Regions from separate parts of the Homo sapiens genome. Here region 1 is linked to region 2. A link means that fine-mapping ties the variant in region 2 to the expression of a gene that starts in the linked region. Tissue or cell type: putamen. Region 2 holds a variant in brackets; the other region holds the start of a gene. All regions are shown on one strand. Distances are from middle to middle.

Region 1 (10,869 bases), 56 kb before region 2:
TGGCACTATGTTATAATGAAAATCGGTCTGGGACTATCTGAAAAGTATGACACTATCAGTGTTTCAGCCTAGGGAAAGTGGGGCTTCATTAGAACATAAGTGTAGATGAACAAACAGCTCCTGGCTGCCTGCAAGCATTTATAATTTATTCATTTAACATTCAGCAAGAATAAAATTGTCCAAGATAACATACTTTCCATATAAAAAAATAATGCCTGTCCTCAAAGATATATGAGTATGGCTATGGAGGATACAAAGAATAATACAGGTTGCTCTTCCAGAAAACAGATCATTTAATTAAGGACGAAAAAAATGCAGAGTTTACTTGATGCAAAAGGTTAACAATACAAAAACATAAATTAGGAGGTACTGCAAGGTAGCATATGACCAAATACCAAATGAGAAGCAGCCTGGCTGCCAGGGGCTGGGGTTCTCTGGGAAAGCTTCAGAGGAAGCAGCATGGGAACTGAGTCTTTTCACTGCCGAGATCGCGCCACTGCACTCTAGCCTGGGTGACAGAGCAAGACTCCGCCTCAAAAAAAAAAAAAAAAAAAGATCAAGAAAGAATTAAGAATCACAACTTCAAGACAGAAAGTAAAACAAATGAGAAGCCTCTTAGATACGAAAATTATCCTCACTGAAGAAAAACTGAGAAGGAATGAGAAAAAAAGTTCAGAAGCATTGTAGCTAAAACAGGAAATGACAAATGCGGACAGGAATTGCAAAGATTTGGTCACCACTTAAAAGGTAAGGATAACTGAAGAAGTGGAAAATTATGGCTGTGTTTCTCGGGAGATGAAAAGGCAGTCAGTGGACTGTACTCAACACTATTTCAAGATCCACTATCTCAGTCAACAATAACTAATTATACAGCCAGGATCTCCTGAATCATAAAATGATGCAATTCCTAATAAGGAGCATGGTGGAGATAATGGCAGGGACAATATGACACAGAGCAGATCTCACAATCACTAGCTGTGATTCCTTAAGCGAGACACTAAACTTCCCTGAGGTGTTTTTTTTTTTTTAGACAGAGTCTCACTCTGTCGCCAGGCTGGAGTGCAGTGGCGCGATCTCAGCTTACTGCAACCTCCACCTCTCAGGTTCAAGTGATCCTCCTGCCTCAGCCTCCCAAGTAGTTGGGACTACAGGCGCATGCCACCAAGCCCAGCTAATTTCCTGTATTTTTAGCAGAGATGGGGTTTTACGGTGTTGGCCAGGATGGTCTCAATCTCTTGACCTCATGATCCATCCATCTGGGCCTCCCAAAGTGCTGGGATTACAGGTGTGAGCCACTGCGCCCAGCCACTTCCCTGAATTTTAATATCCTCTTCTATTAAAAAAAAGGTCTGGGCCGGGCATGGTGGCTCACGCCTGTAATCCCAACACTTCGGGAGACTGAGACGGGTGGATCACCTGAGGTTGGGAGTTCAAGACCAGCTTGACCAACATGGAGAAACCCTGTGTCTACTAAAAATACAAAAAATTAGCCGGGCGTGGTGGCACATGCCTGTAATCCCAACTACTCAGGAGGCTGGGGTAGGAGAATCGCTTGAACCAGGGAGGTGGAGGCTGCGGTGAGCTGAGATCATGCTATTGAACTCCAGCCTGGGTGACAAAGCGACATTCCGTCTTCAAAAAAAAAGAGAGAAATGAAGAGAAATACTATGTACATGAGTTAGAAGACTCAACATAGTAAAGCTATCAATTCTCCCTAAATCGATATAAACATTTAATGTAATTCCTCTCGAATCCCAGCAAAATTATTTGTAAATATAGATAAGACGATTCTAAAACTTACACAGAGAGGCACAGAACTAGAATAGCTAAAAATCTGGGGGAGAGAAGAATAAAGTGGGAGAAATCAGTCTACCTTATTTCAGACTTACACAGCTACAGGAATCAAGACTGCGTGCTAACGGAGAACCCAGAAACAGACTGAAACAGACCCACACAAATATGCTCAACTGACTTTTGACAAAAGTGCATCAACAACTCAATAATGGAAAGGGAGCCTATTCAACAAATGGTGCTGGAGCAACTGGACATCCATAGGCCAAAAAATGGCCCTCAACTTAAGTCTGACACCTAACAGAAAAATTAACTCAAAATGGGTCATAACATAAATGTAAAACATAAACTATAAAACTTTTAGGAAAAAAATAAGAGAAAATCTTTGGGATCTAAGGTTAGGCAAAGAGTTCTTAAACTTGACACCAAAAGCACAATCCATAAAAGGAAATAATGATAAATTTCAACAAAACTGAAAACTTTTGCTTTGCAAAAGACCCTGTTAGAAGATGAAAAGATAAACTACAGACTGAAAGAGAACATTTTCAAATCACATATCTGAGAAAGGACTGGAATCTAGTATACCTAAAAAACTTTAAACCCAACAGAAAAAAAAAATCTAACTAGAAAATAGGCAACATGTTGGGAGGCTGAGACGGGAGGATCGCTTGAGCCCAGGAGTTTGAGACCAGCCTGGGCAACATGGTCACACCCCTGCCTCTACAAAAAATACAAAAATTTAGCCGGCTGTGGTGGTGCACACCTATAGTCCTAGCTACTTGGGGTGGCTGAGGCAGGAGGATCGCTTGAGCCCAGGAGATTGAGGCTGAGGTTGAAGTGAGCCATCTTGGCACCACTGCACTCTAGCCTGGGTGACAATACGAGAAATCCAAGTTAAAATCACCATGAGGTGTCACTATATACCTATAAGAATGGCTAAATTAAAAATAAGGACACCACCAAATGCTGGTAAGGATGTGCAGAAACTGGACCTCTCATACTTTCCTGGTAGGGATGCAAAATAATACAGCCATTCTGAGAAAGTCTGGCAGTTTCTTACAAAACTAAGCATGCAACTACCATATGACCCAACAATTGTATTCCTGGGCATCTATCCCAAAGAACTGAAGACTTATGCTTACATTATGAGTTACTGTACATGAATGTTTATAGCAGCTTTATTGCCAATAGCCAACAACTGAAAACAACCTAGATATCCTTCAAACTGTGGCACAATCATACCATGGAATACTACCCCAGCAAACTGCAGATATATGCAACAACCTGGATGAATCTCCAGAACTTTGCTGAGTTGAAAAAAAAAAAATCCAATCTCAAAAGGTTACTAACTGGGTGATTCCATTATATAAGTCTTGGAATGACAAAATTATAAGAATAAAAACGAATCACTGATTGTCTGGGGTTAAGAAGGAGGCAGGGCAGGAAAGAAGTGTGTGTGGTTATAAAAAGGCATTAAGGGATCCTCCTGGTCCTGGGAACATCCTTTATCTTCACTGTATCAATCAATGACAATATGCTGGTTGTGATATCGTACTATGGGTTTGCCAGATCTTATTGTGGAAAGGTGGATAAAGGGTACAGGGTTCTCACTATACTGTATTATTTCTTACAACTGCATATTAATCTACAATTAACGCAAAATACAGTTTAATTCGAAAATAAGTAAAGTTAGCCTCAAAGCAAATTAAGTACAATTAAAAATAAATCTAACATCAGCTAAATGAAGTGTTCTCTTCTGCTCAAGCTTGTTTGGATACGTAATCTATGAATCAAAGAATTTATAAAACACATTTTCCTCACCAGGACCCCTCAATTTTCCCTCACTCACACATGCACACAAACACAGCAACTGAGACAAGGGGGTCCAGACAGAAAATTTGAGATTTTTAAAAAATACGCGATAGAATGAAAAGAGACCTGGGCTGAATCAGGGAGAAAAATCTTTGTCCAGGTTCTATAAAACAAACCAACGGTGTCACTTTGGACGGATCCTCTAATCTCTCAGCCTGCAATCTGAACTGTTTCTACAATTTAAACTTCTCATGTAGGAGGTTGCTTAGTAGAGTGGTTCTCAAACTTTTTGGTCTCCAGCCTCCAAAGAGCTTTTGTTTACACAGATGAAAACCACCAATGTTTACTATCAAAAATTAAAAGGGAGAATTTGTTTTTAAGAATACACAGGCATCGGGCCTCCAAACGGCGGTGAGATCACTCCATACCATGTAGCCTTTGGAAAACTCGATGTACACGACCTTGGTACTATTAACGAAAATAGTTGTAACCACACTTGGAAAACCGCTGGCTTACTAACAAGCGAGATAAATCTACAAAAGTAACTGGAAAGGTTCAAAACAGTGAACAAACGCGTTCTTTTAGAGTACAAAAGAGTCAAGGCGGGAAAAAAACGGTTTAAAATCCCAATGGAGGAAAACTTGGACGACCACACCATCGGATAAAACGGGAGAGCTTTTGAAAAGCCAGGGGAGCCGGGCTTTCTCCCGGCGGCAGGGAGGCTCGGAAGTGCTCACGGCTGCAAAAGATGACCGCTATTCAATCAGTCCGCACTGCGCCTTCAACTCCGTTATAGCCGTAAGAGACCCACAAACACCGCTGTGGATGTAACTTTTGGCAAAGACCGGGAAGTCGTTCAAGAACTCTCCCACCGTCCCGACGCTGGCGCCGCGCCCCGCGAACCGGGGTCCGGCCGCGCCCAGGCTCCGCAGAGGCTCCTCTCCCGCCCCAGGCGCCCGGCCGCCGCGGAAGCCGGGGAGCACTGGGCGGGCGGGGCCGGAGGGGGCGCGGGTCACAATCCCGGGCCGGACCAGGGGGCCGGTGGGTCGAGGGCGGGAAGTCCCGCGGGGGCCGGGGAGCGCGGGGCTGGGGCCCCGGCGTCGGCGGGACTCACCAGGTGCCGCGCCACCTCGGAGGAGGCCATGGTCGCGGGCAGGGGCACGGTGAAGCGGCTGTATCAGCCCGGCCCCGAGCGGCTGGTCCCGGCGACGGCGGCGGGAAGGCCGGAGGGCAGAAGCAACGGGCGGGGCGCGAGGCTAGGCTGCCTCCGCGACGGGGAAGGGACAGGGGCGGGGCCGAGCTGGAGGCCTCCGGGGGCGGGGTTGGGGCGGACGCCCTGTGGTGCGCGCTGAGCGTTTTGCCTGCGCCAAGCGAGCCCCTCACAGGAGCTACCCTCGACGCCTGAGGACTGAGCGTCAGCGTTGGGGCGGGCTGAAGGAGAGCTGGGACTCCAGGAAGACGGCGCGAGGAATGCAGGCGGGAACTGCGGAGCAGTGATTGCGGCCCTCGCGAGGCCGGAAGTGGGCGGGCCTTGAGGCGAGGCCGCCCTAGGTAGGTGTGGCCGAGACAGCGGGGAGCGGAAGTGGGCGTGGCCTGGTGGCGTGGGCGCGGGGCGGGGGTGCGGGGGGCGTGTCCGCCCGGGCGCGGCCCAGTGAGGCGGTGGCCGAGTCCTCTGGCCTCAGACGCGTAGGCTGGCAGCCCGCTGAGCCCGCCAGACTCCGCCGCCGTCGGGAGCCGGCCGCTGGGAGCCCGTCGCTATGGGACCGCGCTGAGCCGCCCGCTGGCGGGGGAGCAGCGCGGTCGAGGATGGAGGGGCCGGCAGAGTGGGGCCCCGAGGCGGCGCTGGGCCCCGAGGCGGTGCTGCGCTTCCTGGCGGAGCGCGGGGGCCGGGCCCTGCACGCCGAGCTGGTGCAGCACTTCAGGGGCGCCCTAGGCGGCGAACCGGAGCAGCGCGCCCGCGCCCGCGCGCACTTCAAGGAGCTGGTGAACGCCGTGGCCACTGTGCGCGTCGATCCCGCCGACGGCGCCAAGTACGTGCACCTCAAGAAGAGGTTCTGTGAAGGGCCGTCCGAGCCCTCCGGGGACCCGCCGCGAATCCAGGTGACCGCCGAGCCCGAGGCCCCCGACGGCCCTGCCGGGCCCGAGGCGCGCGATCGGCTCCCCGACGCGGCGGCCCCGGAGTCGCTCCCTGGACAGGGCCGCGAGCTGGGCGAGGGAGAGCCCCCCGCCCCCGCGCACTGGCCGCCCCTGAGCGCCGGGGCTCGCAGGAAGAACTCGCGGCGCGACGTGCAGCCCCTACCGCGGACTCCAGCCCCGGGGCCCAGCGAGGACCTGGAGCTCCCGCCACATGGCTGCGAGGAGGCGGACAGGGGCAGCTCCCTTGTGGGGGCTACCGCACAGAGGCCGGCCCGCCAGAACCTCCGTGACCTGGTGATGGGCAGCTCCCCGCAGCTGAAGAGGAGCGTGTGTCCCGGGGGCAGCAGCCCGGGCAGCTCCTCCGGGGGAGGACGCGGCAGAGGCGGGGGCGACTCAGACAGCGCATCGGTGGCCTCGTCGTCCGCGGAGGAGGAGAGCAGCGGCGGAGGCTCCGTGACGCTGGACCCCCTGGAGCACGCGTGGATGCTCTCTGCCTCCGATGGCAAGTGGGACAGCCTGGAGGGCTTGCTCACCTGCGAGCCCGGCCTGCTGGTCAAGCGGGACTTCATTACCGGCTTCACTTGCCTGCACTGGGCCGCCAAGCACGGCAGGCAGGAGCTTCTGGCCATGCTAGTCAACTTCGCCAACAAACACCAGCTGCCGGTGAACATCGACGCCAGGACGAGCGGGGGTTACACCGCCCTGCACTTGGCAGCCATGCACGGCCACGTGGAGGTGGTGAAGCTGCTGGTGGGGGCCTACGACGCCGATGTGGACATCAGGGACTACAGTGGGAAAAAGGCCTCCCAGTACCTGAGTCGGAGCATCGCCGAGGAGATCAAGAACCTGGTGGGAGCCCTGGACGAGGGTGACGGGGAAAGCGCCGCGGGTAGCGGCGGCGGGCGCTGGAGGCTTTCAAAGGTGCTTCCCTCGCATCTCATCACCTACAAACTCTCACACGCCCTAGAAGATGGAGGGGACCATCACCACCATCACCACTCGGCTGAGGGGTGGGTCGGAGGCAAAGCCAAGGATCCAGGGCGCAAAGCCTCGGGCAGCTCTAGTGGACGTATAAAACCCAGACTCAACAAAATCCGATTCAGAACCCAGATCGTCCACACCACACCCTCTTTCAGGGACCCAGAGCAGCCGCTGGAGGGCAGGGGGGAGGAGGGAGTGGGGGAGGAACGACCTGTTAAAGGCCACTCGCCCTTCACATTGAGACCAAAGTCCAATGTATTTGGGTAAAAATTGCTTCTTTTAGAAAATGCAAAGGTTTATTTGTCTTAATAAATTGAATACTAGGTGTTGTAAGGAAGTGAGACCAGAAGGACAAGCTAAATTATGCATTCTTACTTGAGGGATCGGAATGGATGGGGCGGAGTTCTCTTCAGGCTAGCCTTCTGGGAAAAGTGGATGTCTTTTTCAGAGATTCATCATACCTTGACCTGTACCTCTTCTCTGCCCTCCACTTCCCTGCCCTGGAGTCCGTTTCTGGAGACTAGAAATGTATCTAAATTGGGGGAACAGAATGAATGAATTAATGAATGAGAGTTCCTTTGCTTTAACCATTCCTGGATGCCTGCAAAGTAAGGAATAATGCAGTTTTTATGTATCTGATTTTATAAGGGGTTACTCTTTCAAGAGTAACAAAAAAATGCAAACTGTAATGAAACTACATTGTATTTCTAAGTGTGAAAACGACAGGCTGCCCCGTTTTTACTAATTGCATTTGCATTTTAAGGTACTACTGAAGGTCAGATCAAAGTTGAAATGCAAAAATACTAATTAGAGAATAATGTGAATAAAATGGGAATCTTCTTGGTATTTTATGTGTATTGTAAGTAGCAGTTAAATTATTTTTTTAAAAGCAATTTCAGTTTTAATCACTGAACAAAAGAAACAGGCAACATTCACTTCTGTAGTATGGTTTCCACCTATCTCTAACACCACTATTAAGGTACACCAGTGTTAAGGTACATTAATAACTACACAAAATTTTATTTAAAGAGAACACTTAGCAGCCTATGATAGTTTTCAATAAAATGTTGCCTCTCTTTCGGATTCTCACTAACTTTTGTTACTATTCTAAAAGTTTGAATTTGCTGGGGTGTTTATTCTGAGGATTATTTAACCATTGTTCTATTTGGCATAACCCTATTTAATGGTGCTTAGAGCTGAATTACCTACAGAAACTGTTTCTGGTTTAAATAATTAGCACAAATTGGCCTAAGTATTCATGAGCCCATGTTTCTGTGAAGTAATTATTAAACCAACTTAATGATTCTTATGTAAGGTACACTTTTTATTTTAATACATTGGTAGTCTCTATGACTTGTAGCAATGTTTTACAAATGTTTAAAATGCTAAACTTAATTTTCCAAGCTTTTCTTGACAATTAGATACCTATCCTGTAGTTACTGAAAATCTGGGTAGTAAATCTACCCAATTAAAATGGCACTTTATAAAAGGGAATAGAGAAGAGATGGGACTATTTCTATATTTAAATGCTGCTGGCTATTCCTTTGTATATAAATGAAAAATACCATTCATTAAAATTAAGTACTCGTTTAAGTATGGTTCTTAATTACATTTCATTCATTTATATTAGAGTAAATGGCTTCATAACTACTTTAAAATTTAACCCACAAGCATATTAAATCTGTTTGTTATAAGATTGGAAACAATTTTTGAGAGGGACTAATTTAAACAAGTCCTCCTTTAGTCTTTTGGGTCGCGTAGTTGCTGAAACCTAAGTACCTGCAGCCTACAGGATAAGGAAGTTCACAGCCTGCGGGGTGAATGAACCCATGTGTGAACTGCACAGAGCAATTCATAGAAAATGCATAGAAATTTGTAACACTTTGGTCACATCTGTCTCTAGATGGTCATTGAATTTGTTTAAAGATGGATGAAAGGCCAGGCATGGTGGCTCATGCCTGTAATCCCAGCACTTTGGGAGGCCGAGGCAGGTGGATCACTTGAGGCCAGGAGTTTGAAACCAGCCTGGCCAACATGGTGAAAACCTGTCTCTACTAAAAATACAAAAATTAGCCGAGCGTGGTGGTGCGTGCCTGTAGTCCCAGCTACTTAGGAGGCTGAGGCATGAGAATCACTTAAACCTGAGAGGTGGAGGTTGCAGTTGAGCCAAGATCACGACACTGCACTCCAGCCTGGGCAACGGAGACTCTGTCTCAAAAAAAAAAAAAAAAAAGATGAATGAAAATATGAAATATATAAACTAGTATCCATTTATTTGCATTTATTGTGGGATTTCAGATATGAACGGTGTAAATTTGAGAAGCACTTATGCATACATGTGGGTGAAAAACCAATCTAATTTTGTATAAATAAAAACAGGCTCCTGGAAGGTGAAAAGTAGTCATTTGTTCTAAATCTATACATATTACTTGTATCTAGTGCAGAATAAGCTATAACATCCCATTGAGGAATCTTAAATTTCATAGACATGTAAAGCTGAAGTAACTCTAAAGAGCAGATGCTTCAGAACCATCAGAAGGTTCTGGTCAACAGTCAGTATTATCTCTTAAATGTATATGTTGGTCACTAATTGCACAAAATCTATAATTTGCCAGGGCTTTAGAGATTGAGTCAATATGTCATTTACCATGGTTTTCCCACTGAAGGCTTTAACTTTTCTGATAAAATAATATTTTAAATTTTCAAAAACCCATTCCTGAGGAGAACTACTTCTAGCATTCCTTTTCATGATGTGCTTTTGTGCAGTAAGTAGCATTTTCGGCTACTTAACTTTACATTCCTCTTATTTTTCAGTTTCCAGTCAAGATTATAAAAAGCAAATGATTGATATAATTTGATATTCATAGAGTTGTGCCTACCTTTAATGGAAAAATACATGTCAGATACTTAGATGTTTATTGATATGAGACTATGTGGTTAAAAAACCCAAGTATGTCCATGTGTTTCTTATAAGGTACACTTGAAACTAGTGAGTGTTTGTCACATTTCACTTTCATGGTATATAAAATGCAGTTTGCATATATAACTTGAATATCTGGTACTAGTTTTTTCACGCCTGCAATCTTGGAGTCTAGGTTGCCTTGTCTCTCCTATTTTTAAATAAGTGAAATTTGGGAGATTGTAAAATCTGTAAAGTTTGTTTTGTGAAAATAAAATGTTCACAGTAGAATTTTTCTCTGAATTGTCTAAGTTTCTGTCGTCCTTTAGACTTTTTACATATACTGTGTTTTACAGTTCACAAAATGCTTTTTGAAGTTTCAGTTTATTTGACCCTTTTCCTATCCCTTAAGATTATGGGCCATATATTGTTGACTTACAGATAAGAAAATAGAGGTTAATGGTTGTTCAGGGTCACACAGTAAAAAGCTGTTAGTAAGATTATAAGAGTCAGGGCTTTCCCACAACGTTATCTTTTCTGCACATTGAATTGCCACATTTTTAGCAAAACTGCTGTAGTTTGGCACCAGTGATGGAGGAATCAACTTGGAGAGAAGGTAATACCTCCACCACTACCTAAAAAAAAGCTGTATGGGTTTTGCACACACCATCTGCCATAAACCTGCCCTACCCAGGGCTGACTTCAAGACAGGTGTAGGAATACCGTTTTTCATTTTTCAGCCTCTGTGAAGCATTGAGAGTTAATTACCTCATCAAGGCTTCCTGTGATCTGTATTTTTAGCAAAATTCAACTCTGTTGAATGGCAAAGGGATGTGGTACTCCTTTGGTGTAATCGCCCACTATTGCTCTATCCGGGAGATCCCACTGTGATGGCTGCTGGGGTTATTCTTGTTTTATGATAACCCATAAAATATTTTTCAGGATCACTGAAAGACTAGATAAGTAGTTTGTTTTTCTAGAATAACTTCTTTCCTTAGAAGTACATGTCTTAAAAGGATTTATTAACCAGTTCACTTAAAGATATTTTTGAAATTTTCCTAGTAAAAATTATTTTTATTTTGCTAAGTAAATAGCATTATTTGGAGTTTCTTACATGATTAATTCCAGGATTAAATACTTGGAATTTGCTGTAAACCAGTATTCCTTCAATGATCACCCAAGTCTTCATAAATCACTGAATATTAGAGGGTTGGAAGATGACTCTACAGAAACTTGTTTCTCAAGATACA
Region 2 (10,869 bases):
TGTGGTGGCAGACAACTGTAATCTCAGCTACTTGGGAGGCTGAGGCAGGAGAACTGCTTGAACCTGGGAGGTAGAGGTTTTAGTAAGCCAAGATCACGCTATTCCACTCCAGACTGGGCAACAAGAGCAAAATTCTGTCTAAAAAAAAAAACCAAAACCAAAATCAAAAACAAAATGACAACAACAAAAAAACTCAATGCATACCTACACATAGAAAAAAATAATTATACCAAAATGAGATATCACAATTCTACTTTTAAATTTTAATTTTAACCTTATTATCAAAAAACCTTTATGGAAGTACAGCATACATACATACTACCAGCTTGGGAACAAATTGAAATTGCAAATGCAATAATTATCAGAAAATGTCTTTCTTTGCTTGTGCGTGATGTGGTGGCAGCAGGTGCGGCTTTGAGATGCAGAATGATGCTGGTGAGTTCGTGGACCTGTACGTGCCGTGGAAATGGTCCGATAGCAACTGCATCATTGATGCCAAGGACCACGAATCCATCCAGAAGAATGGGACCAAGGTTGATAATGTCGCAAGCAGGTTTTTTTTTTTTTTTTTTGAAACAGTTTCGCTCTCGTTGCCCAGGCTGGAGGGGAATGGTGGGATCTTGGCTCACCACAACCTCCACCTCTGGGTTCAAGTGATTCTCCTGCCTCAACCTCCCAAGTAGCTGGGATTACAGGCACATGCCATGACGCCCAGCTAATTTTGTATTTTTAGTAGAGACAGGGTTTCTCCATGTTGGTCAGGCTTGTCTCGAACTCCTGACCTCAGGTGATCTGCCCGCCTCAGCTTTCCAAAGTGCTGGGATAGCAGGCATGAGCCACCGCAACTGGCCTGATCGCAGGCAGGTTTAACAGCCAGTTTAAAATGTATGCTACCTGCGGGGCCATTCGCAGGATGGGTGAGTCACATGACTCCATTTTCCAATTGGCCAATGCCAACAGATTGTATTAAAGAACTTTTGACTGGAGAGAATCATGGATGTCAAATATTTGTCATAAATAAATAGTAAGAACCTAAGAAAGGCCGGGTGCAGTGGCTCATGCCTGCTATCCCAGCACTTTGGAAGGCCGAGGAAGGCAGATCACCTGAAGTCAGGAGTTCAAGACCAGCCTGGCCAACATGGAGAAACCCTGTCTCTACTAAAAATACAAAATTAGCTGGGTGTGGTGGTGGGTGCCTGTAATCCCAGCTACTCAGGAGGCTGAGGCAGGAGAATTGCTTGAACCTGGGAAGCGGAGGTTGCAGTGAGCCAAGATCATGCCATTGCACTCCAGCCTGGCAAAAGAGACAGATTCTGTCACAAAACAAAACAAAACAAAAAACTAAAAAAAAAAAAAAAATTACTGCAAAATAAATACATCTATTTCTGCTAGAAACAGAAGTCTCACAGGCATTGCTTTTTCTATAAAATAGTTAATGAAATTTTGGAGCACCTTACATGAATTTGTATTAAAACATACTTAGGATGTGGTGCCCATTGTCCAGCGTGTGGTGCCACTTTTTTTGTGAGAAGGAGATTTCTCTGAATTCTTTAATTCTGAAGCAATATGTGTTCCTAAACAGATAATATGGAATATTATTGTGAATTATGTCCTTAATGATAAATTTAAGGGCATAGGAGAAATATTATCTGTATAGTTGACGTTGGTAAAAAGACTAGAGCACAACTTTCAACTTACTAACAACGTTTCTGAGGCAGTTAAGAATTTTGATTATCTTAATTCATGAAACATAAAACTTAAATTAACCTGAAAATTCAATGTACAGTGTTTGCCCTTGTCTGTTGTTCAAATCTCACTTTTTAAAGCCAGGCTCCTATCAGAAACAGAATAAAGTTAAAGCTCTTAATTAGAACCAGAGATGAAGACATGTTGGCTGCTAATTGGAGGAAAAACTATGTCCTTAAATCCAGAGAGGTTGACAGTCAAGATGAAAAGCTAGATTATTATACTCATTAGGCTGAAAAAAATAATCACCTCAGTGGCCCAAAGACAAGGTCTGAATTTAACATGAGAGGAAACTGGATCTATGCATCTGCTGTGTTGAGACCTCATAGTTTTATACCATAGAAATGGGCACGGTTGGTTTTCTGGAAGAGTTGCAAGTATAAGCTATTTGTATTTGTTCCTCTGCCTAGAATTGTGGGTGTCCACTGAGGCAGTCCATATTTGATGGATGACTGAGTCCTGATTTCTGAGAGTCAGCTGACTCTAGTGTTACTGATCTTATGGAAAAGTCAATCCAGTGAGAAGGTTTTGTGGGTTTCAAATACACATAGATCATAATCTAAATATATCCCAGTTTTTGTTTTATTTTACTTTTCAGCCAATCCTGAGGCATAAGAAACATTTTAATTCACTGCACATTCCAAAAGCCTTGCAGAAAGCCTTGCCATTTAAGAACAAGCCCAAGACCCAAGCAAACGCAGGCAAGGTGCTGAAGGACAGGCAGAGACCAACCATCATAAGCAAGCCTCATGAAAGGAAGGTCCTGTGGCCAATTGACTGCCATTTAGAGAGGAAAATAACACTCTTGGCAGCACACTTTGCATTTCTACTGTAACTCAGTTTTGATCAGGAGGGGATGAGACCAGAGTTATTCACGGCACTAGAACTATAGGTTAGAGGCAGGGCTGGAGTCTATTTCCAGTCCTTTGCTTGGCCGTGTTCTGCCCTGTGCATTTTAATGTGGAGTCATAGGCATGGCTGGGGAGCCCTTCCTCCTGGTTAGTGGCACACAGAGCCCATAGAATGATGAACAGAGGTGGTTTTGCGGTAAAGGTAAATGTGCTCACACCTGTATCTCCATGCCAACAATGATTTCCTAGCTCGGGATGCATTTTCAAGGCGTTAACATTCATTTGGATCCTGGATTGCCTCTATCTTGGATTCCATCAGCTGACATGCCTGGATGGGAGTGTGCGGTGTCTGTGAGAGTATTCTGATGCTCGCCAGGTTTTGTCCCTGTCAGATCCTTGCACTGCTGGATGCTCTGAGTACAGTGTGCAGTCAGAGGGTGCAGAAGGCCAAGAAGCAGCAGCACCTGCAGAATAAAGAGCATTTTAAAGCACTCCTCAAGCAGAAGGAGAAGCTGAAGCAGCAAGAGGACCTCAGAAGAAGCTCTTCTGAATTCAGGGTCAGAGGGAAAGAAGAAGCCAGAAATCCAGTCTGAAGAGGGCTGAGGAGCAATTGCAGTGAGCCTTTGGAATGGGAAGGCTGGCCATAGATCTGCAGAAATGGATGATTTCAAACACCACGGTGCTTGTGAATAACAAGTCAGGGGGCGAGAGCCCAAGAGATGTTCCTGTTGAACACATCATACAGACTGTGCCTTTGAGAGGAGAAATGAAGCCTGCAATTGCAGGACCCGGGTTCATTTTCAGCATCTGGAGCTGTCAAGATTTAAAGTGATGTAAACTATGGTTATGTGGATTCTCTTACTTTTTTCTGCCTGCCTCAGTTTAATTATTTTGTACTATAAAAATATAATTAAAACATTTTCCTGTTAGTTTTGGCTTAGTGGGTTTCATTAGGGGTGAATGTTAGTGGATTGTGGATAATTGTTTATCCTAGAAAAATACAATAAAATCATCACCTCAAAGCATATATACTTGGGAAGCTGAAAACTACAAAGTATTCTCAAGTCAATACATCACAGAAGGCATGATACCTATATAAAGAAACAACAATGAAAATCCCACAGGCAACACTTGTGCGATGCTGCTGAGGGACTACCAGAGAAAGTGGGACTCTAGGCTGTGCCTTCAGTGTGCACATATGAGAAATGAAGATGGAATGGATGTGTCACATTCTAATGCAATCTAAGAAAAGAGAAGAAAGCAACCATGTACATACAGAAAGCAAAATGAAGGAAATGATCCAATTTAAAGATAATTTGATGACTATAGGCCAGTTTTGCTTATCAACATTACAAACAATATTGAAAATAAATGTCAAAGCAAATGAAACCAAATAGATATTTGACACTGGGAGATACAAAATGAGAGCAGGCACATGGAACAATTGGAACCCTCCTAGCCCACTGCTAGGACTATAAATCAGAAAGGGCCATTATAAACACTTCTTAGCCAATGTTCTTGCATTCATGAATGGGAAGGATAAAGCTGGAGTTATCATACTACTTGACTTCAAAATGTACTAGGAAGCTGCAGTAACCAAATCTGCATGACCATGTCCTGAAAACAGACAAATAGATCAATGAAAGGGAATAGAGGACCCAGATATACATGCACAGATTTACAGCTAACTCATCTTTGACAAAGACACCAAGAAAATACATACAATGGGGAAACGTCATGCACAAGAAGGAGACTAGACTCCTATCTCTCCTCATACATGAAAATAAAATCAAATGGATTAAACACTTATGCTGAAGACCAGAAACCATGAAACTACTAGAATAAAAACATTGTGGAAACACTCCAAGACACTGGTCTAGGCAAAAGTTTTTGGTTTAAGACTTCAAAATCACAGGCGACCAAAGCAAAAACAAACAAATGAAATTCTGTCATCCTAAAAAGCTTTCAGCACAGCAAAAGAAACAACAAAGAAAGGAGACGACACACAGGAGAAACAATATTTTCAAACTCCCCACCCCTGAAGGGATTCATAACCAGAATATATAATAAGCTCAAACAACTCAATACCAAAAAACCTCCAGAAAACCAAAAAGAATCTGATTTAAAAATGAACAGAAGATCTGAATAAATATTTTTTGAGAGAAGACACATGGAACTACTGGAACTCTCTTAGCCCCTGCTAGAACTAGAATTCAGAACGGCCACTATGAACACCTCTCAGGCAATGTTCCTACATTCATGAATGAGAAAATACATCTAAACCAGAGAAGGCCTCAAGATAACCTCCAAGGTTCTGACAACCCTCACCGCCTCTGGCTCTTTTACCGGCTCCCTGGCCAGCAGCCTAGGCCTGGACCCCTCCCTCAGGGCCACAGGAGGTGAGAACCTTGATAGTGCACCCAACCTGCTCCCCGCCATGGGCAGCACATCCACAGGTAGCACCCCTAACCAGTCGCCCCACCCCCCGTGCCCTGGATAGCACCCCCAACCCACTCTATGCTGCAGGCATCAGGTGCCCCCAAGCGACCCCCCACCACGGGCAGTGCAGCCTCTGATAGTGCACCTACCCCACCACCTTTCTACCACCCTGGCCATGCTGCAGTCTCCGTCACAGCCAGCAACTGCAGTGAGGCGAGCCACGATGCCACAGGCTACAGCCTCCAGGGTGCGGCAGACGGTTCCTCCTCTTCCTCCTCTAAGCCAGGCACAGAGTAGCTGGGCTACAGCTGCAGAAGAGCCTGGAATGGTGGGAAGCCCCCTTAGCATCCTTCACATTCTGAAAATATGCAAATGAGGTTCCTGGACTACATGTTCTGATTGGGTGAGACAAAAACCTCTAGGCCTATGCCCCATGGTGGGGGACAGGTTAGGGATGCTACTGGGGGCTATACTGCCTGTGGCAGAGTGGGGGTGGGGGTGGGGGTTGGTTGGGGGGTGCTATTGGGGGCCAGACTGCCCCTGGCGGGGGGCTGGTTGGGGATACTATCTGGGGTTGCAGTACCCACAGCAGCTCATCGGGGAGTGGATTGGGTG[C/T]GATAACTTGGGCACAACTGCCCGAGGCAGATGTTGGGCTGGGGGCACTATTGGGGGCTATGAGGATTAAGGGCACTATCAGGGACTGCACTGCCAGTGGCGGGTGGCAGAGGCAGCAGTGACAGCAGTGGCCTCCAAGGCAGGGGCTGTTCTCCTCTCCCCAGACTCCAAACTCTAGAGGCTGACCTCGTTCTGCTGCTGCTGCTCGAAGCCAGTGGGGTGCATAGCATTTCCATGGGAATCCTGAGCATGGCAGGGCCCCCACACCTGCTGTGGGTCCAGGGCCTGTGCCCTCTTCCTCTGTGTTGCAGAGACAGCCTGGGATCTCTGGGCATGGAGTTGGGGGAATCACAAGGGGACAGGGCCCTGTGGGTGGAGGCATCAGGAATGGCAACCACACTTCGGTTTGGGGGTGGCTGGGTCTGAGTTTCTGCTGCTCCTGCTCCCCAAGGAGTGCAGCCTCAGTGGGCCCAGTGGTTCCTGTGGCTTGGGGAGCTGGGCACTATGGTGTCTCCAATCCCCACCCCAGGCCCCAGTGCCTGGCCAGCTTGGGCCAAAAGGAGAGGCTGGACTTCGGAGGGTGGGTGTGAGTGCCTTCGCTGAAACTGGCCCCTGCCACCCAGTGGACAGCATGACAAGGTGATGCTGTAACGCTACCACTTCCTGCAACCTGGTCTAGGTTTTTCTGGCTTTGCCCACACTGCTGCTTCCTACCAGGAGAAGGAGGATCCACCTGCTGGATATTGGAGGCTGGAGGCTGGAGCCTGTGGTCCTGCAGCTTGCCTCGCTGTGAGTTGGTGGTGGTGACAGAGACTGTAGCATGCCAGAGTGGTAGGAGGTGGCCAGCTGCAGCCAGGGCAGGGGCAGGGCTGTGGCAGTAGCCATGTGGTAGGAGCCTTGTAGGGAGGGCCGGTGCATTGAGGGTGACAGCAGTGGTGGTTGTATTGGCATCAGTGCCAGTGGTGGCAGCAGCAGCAAGTCTGGGGGCTGGGAAGGGGGAGTAGGAGCTTCAGGGTTCGGCTGGCCTGGCATAGGTAGGAAGCTGTGGTTGCTGCACCATGGGCCTCATTGGAGGTGCAGCCAGGGCAAGGAGGAGTCCTCCCCCTTCTCCTGGAGAATCTGGAGGGTGCCCTCCTCCTGCTGGTGCCTGAACCAGGCATGAGTGGAGCATTATCTCACTCTTAGCAAAATTTAAGGGGTGACAATTTAGGGGGTGTATCTTTTTTATTGTTTTTTGTTGATGGTCTTGGACTTTTTCAAATTTCATGAATCAGGAAGGGGAAAAAAGGTATGGCACCTGAGCCAGCCATGAGTGTAGCATTATCTCACTCTTAATGAAATTTAAGGGGTGTCTATCTTTTTGCTTGTTTTTTTGTTGATGGTCTTGGACTTTTTCAAATTTCATGAATCAGGAAGGGGAAAAAAGGTATCTTATAGGCCATTTGATTCCCACACCTGTTTTTCCTACTTTCTTCCAGTCTGTTTTTTCTTTTTCTCATCACCATCATCTAGTTCCTCTTCATTCGCTTATGCTCCTGCTTCTATTTCTTGTTTCTATACTTTCTCCTCCTCCTCCTCGTCTTTTGTTTTCTTTTTCCCAAGCAATGACCTTAACAAGCAACAAACCAAAACTGAGTTAAAAATAAACTACTCACCAGTGTGTTGTATTTTTAAAATATTGGTCCATTACCATGTTTTAGAGATGAGGAAAAAAATTAGTTGCATAATTATTTAGTTCCTTGAATAGCTATGCTTTCCTGTTAATGCATTGTAAGTTGTTATTCAAGGAATCAAAAAATGAAGCATCAAATAAAATATTGGTAGCAAACAGCCATTTCATCTCTCTCACATATTAGTCTGGAGATATGCAAGAGGCAGGGTGGGTAATAAGTTCCACTTTATGAGATCATTGAGTGAACCATATACCCTTCATTTTATTTCTCTGCCACCATTTTCAAGAGTATTGCCATCTGCATGAGCAAATCTGGTTCATCACCACATCTTTGCAACAAGAAAAGGAAGCGGAGGATTATGTATATAATTGTTTTAAGGCCAAGGTTAATAACCAAAAACAAGGCTTTAGTAACTGTTGTCTTTAAGAACCTGCAGTGTTGGGCCCTCTTTTATTCCTAGTGTTACGTATTATTACCTTCGGTATGAACTGTTTTTTTAAGGGATTTCTCTAGAAGTTTATGCATTTTATTGACTACTTTAAAGAAACAAGTAATCTATATTGTATCATTTCTTTCAAGACTACAGAAATTTATAAGGCCGGTAATTTTGACACTTTTAAATTATTTTAAGGTTATGACATGTAAATACTGTTGATATATGTACAAATATGCATAAGTATCAATAGATAGCTTATTTTATAGAGATAGTGTCTAAATTTTTGTCCAGAGTAGATTGGTTGCAGTTTCTTAGGTGTGTTTCTCAATACATTGCCTCAATGTTTTAAAGCATATAGAAATTTGAATACTGCTAAACCTCATTTAGTCCTTTGTTTATAGGTTGTTTGATATTACTAAAGACATCACAGCCCCTCTTGAGATTCAGAAATAATAAAACTTGAGATATATAGAGTTAGAATCCAACAAATTCAGAGGAAAATTGTTCAATTACGTAGCTGTAGAGCAGGAATGAAATCCAGGTTCTAAGCTCTAAGGGGGCCGTGAGCTACCATACAGGTGCCTCGGTGACTGGGCATAGAGTCAGCAGAATTACGGGATGGTTAAGAGTGAGCTGTGGAGCCTAACTCTATGTGAACATGAATTTTTAAACTGTATGGTGCCTCAGTTTATCCATCTTTACAATGGGGACAGTACTAAGTGTTTCTTTTTCTTCCCAGTTGACTGAATTATTTCCGTAGTAGGTCTTGTTGCCAATCTTTTTGCCCACATGAGAGGACCTAAGGTAATTTCTGACAGCCTGGGATGCTTTGGGAAAAACAGAAGGTGCCACAGACCCCATTTTGGGAGAAACCTCTGTTTTTCTCATGGAACCCCAAGAGCTGTAAACAGACAGGTCCCTCTCAAAATCTAAGGCTCTGCTCTGTTTTGCCTTGCTTTACCTGACCTTTTTGATTTGGGTGGGCATCAGAAATTAGTAGGGGAGAGACAGCTAAAGAAAGTTGTGGATGTGGGCTGGGTGCAGTGGCTCATGCCTGTAGTCCCAGCACTTTGGGAGGCCAAGGCAGGTGGATCACCTGAGGTCAGGAGTTCGAGACGAGCCTGGCCAACATGGCAAAACCCCATCTCTACTAAAAATACAAAAATTAGCTGGGCAAGGTGGTGGTTGGAAGAAGGAGAAAGAGAGAGGGAGGGGAGGTGGGGAGGGGAACAAACAGTTTTCCCAGATAGCTATACCCATTTACCCTGTTATCAACAATGTATGAGAGCTCCAGGGATCTCCATTGTCTATATTTGATATTTTCAGGTTTTTTCCCCCTTCATTTTGGCTATTCTGAGTGTGATGCCATAGCTTCTAGTGGTTTTAATTTGCATTTTTCTGAAGACTAATGAGGTTGAGCACCTTTCCATGTATTTATTGGGCAGCTGAGATACTATCTGTTTTGTGAAGTGCCTGTTCAAGTCTTTCACCCAATTTATTTCTACTGGGTAGGTTCACCTTTTTCTCATTGGTTTGTTAGTATTATGTTGCAAATACCTTTCACATCCTATTGGCCTCCCCAGCACTCCTTTAATGTTGTTTCTTGATGCCAGCTTCTTATTTTATGCTTAGTGCCTACATCCTATTTTAAACAATAAATGTTGAAGATAATTGTGCTTGAATTTAACAACCCCCCCCCAAAATGAAGTAAAATGGTAGAAACTGCTGAATTTCAGAAAAATATTTCCTCATCACAAAATATACTAGCGGTCCCAGGTACTTGGGAGGGTGAGGCATGAAGATCGCTTGAGCTCAGTAGTTCATGACCGGCCCGGGAAACATGGCAAGACCTTGTGTCTCCAAAAAAAAAAAAAAAAAAAAAAAATTAACCGAGCATGATGGCATGTACCTGTAGTCCCAGCTACTTGGGAGGCTGAGGCGGGATTGCTTGAGCCCAGAAGGTTGTGAGGCTGTAGTGAGCTATGATTGCACTGCTGCACTCCAGCCTTGGCGACAGAATGAGACCCCATGTCAAAACAACAAAAACAAGAAAAAAGAAAAAAAATATTAGTTTCTAAAATAACCTGCTAAAATTAAGGAAAGGGTTTATGAAAAATATTAATAAGTAGTAATGATTTTATGTGTTTCAATTACAGGCAGTATCTACTAACTCCTTGTTATGAATAAGGAAATTGACATTCTTACATTTCCTCTTCCCTCCTCTCCTCAGCCCCCTGAGTTTGCTAGCTTTCTCCTGTCAAGATTTACATTTTATTCTGAAACCATAATTTCTTCCATAGTGTAGCTTTAACTATTTGCTTACATGGAGTCATCTCTCTTTCCAGTCTTTTCCCCATGGCTTCTCCCTCACTTCATGTCTTATTTTGCTTCATCTCTTAGTTGGCCAGACTTCATTTTCAGCTACTTTTTTTCTTTTAGAGACAGGGTTTCTCTCTGTCACCGAGGCTGGAGTGCAATGGTGCAATCATAGCTCACTGCAGCTTTGAACTCCTGGACTCAAGGATCCTCCCACCTCAGCCTCCCAGTAAGCTCGACCACAGGCATGTGCCACCATGCCCAGCTAATTTTGTATTTTTACTTTTTGTAGAGACAGGATCTCACTATGTTCAACTACATTTTTAAAGGGCCCTGGGTGCTGTGTCCCTCTGTCTGATCTTGAAGAATGTTTGTCTATCACCGTTATACTCGAAGGACAGCTTGGCAAAGTGCAAAGTTCTCAGACCAGGCTCACAGGCAAGTTCTTCCTGGTATACTAACAGCACCACTTTCTGAATCGAATCCGCAGAGGCAGAGGGCAAACCCTTAGCAGAGATGGAAACTATGGCAACTGGCCAGGTGCGGTGGCTCATGCTTGTAATCCCAGCACTTTGGGAGGCTGAGGCAAGTGGATGGTCTGAGGTCAGGAGTTGGAGACCAGCCTGGCCAACATAGTGAAACCCCGTCTCTACTAAAAGTACAAAAATTAGCTGGGTGTGGTAGCAGGCGCCTGTAATCCCAGCTACTTGGGAGGCTGAGGCAGGAGAATCTCTTGAACCCAGGAGGCGGAGGTTGCAGTGAGCTGAGATCCCACCATTGCACTCCAGCCTGG

Evidence for each region. PIP is the estimated chance that this variant, and not a neighbour inherited with it, causes the effect.
Region 1: SEPTIN10 starts here. The variant in region 2 is fine-mapped to the expression of SEPTIN10 in putamen (GTEx, PIP 0.98).

What each region holds. Positions count from the first base shown.
Region 1 is chr2:109,609,081-109,619,949 of GRCh38, forward strand. It overlaps SEPTIN10 (septin 10), which reads right to left and starts at 4,886. Exons shown (of 11, transcript NM_144710.5): 1 at 4,718-4,886. The coding sequence starts at 4,747. SOWAHC (sosondowah ankyrin repeat domain family member C) reads left to right here and starts at 5,284. Exons shown (of 1, transcript NM_023016.4): 1 at 5,284-9,910. The coding sequence starts at 5,410. The coding sequence ends at 6,987. It also overlaps a transcript of RANBP2 not described here. RefSeq lists an enhancer at 3,776-4,685 and silencers at 4,538-4,627, 4,658-4,907, 5,168-5,337.
Region 2 is chr2:109,664,790-109,675,658 of GRCh38, forward strand. It overlaps a transcript of RANBP2 not described here and the pseudogene BMS1P19. Among named protein-coding and RNA genes, the nearest start is that of SOWAHC, 56 kb to the left of the region's middle. RefSeq lists an enhancer at 6,315-6,815. The variant C/T (reference allele first, on the strand shown) is at 5,652.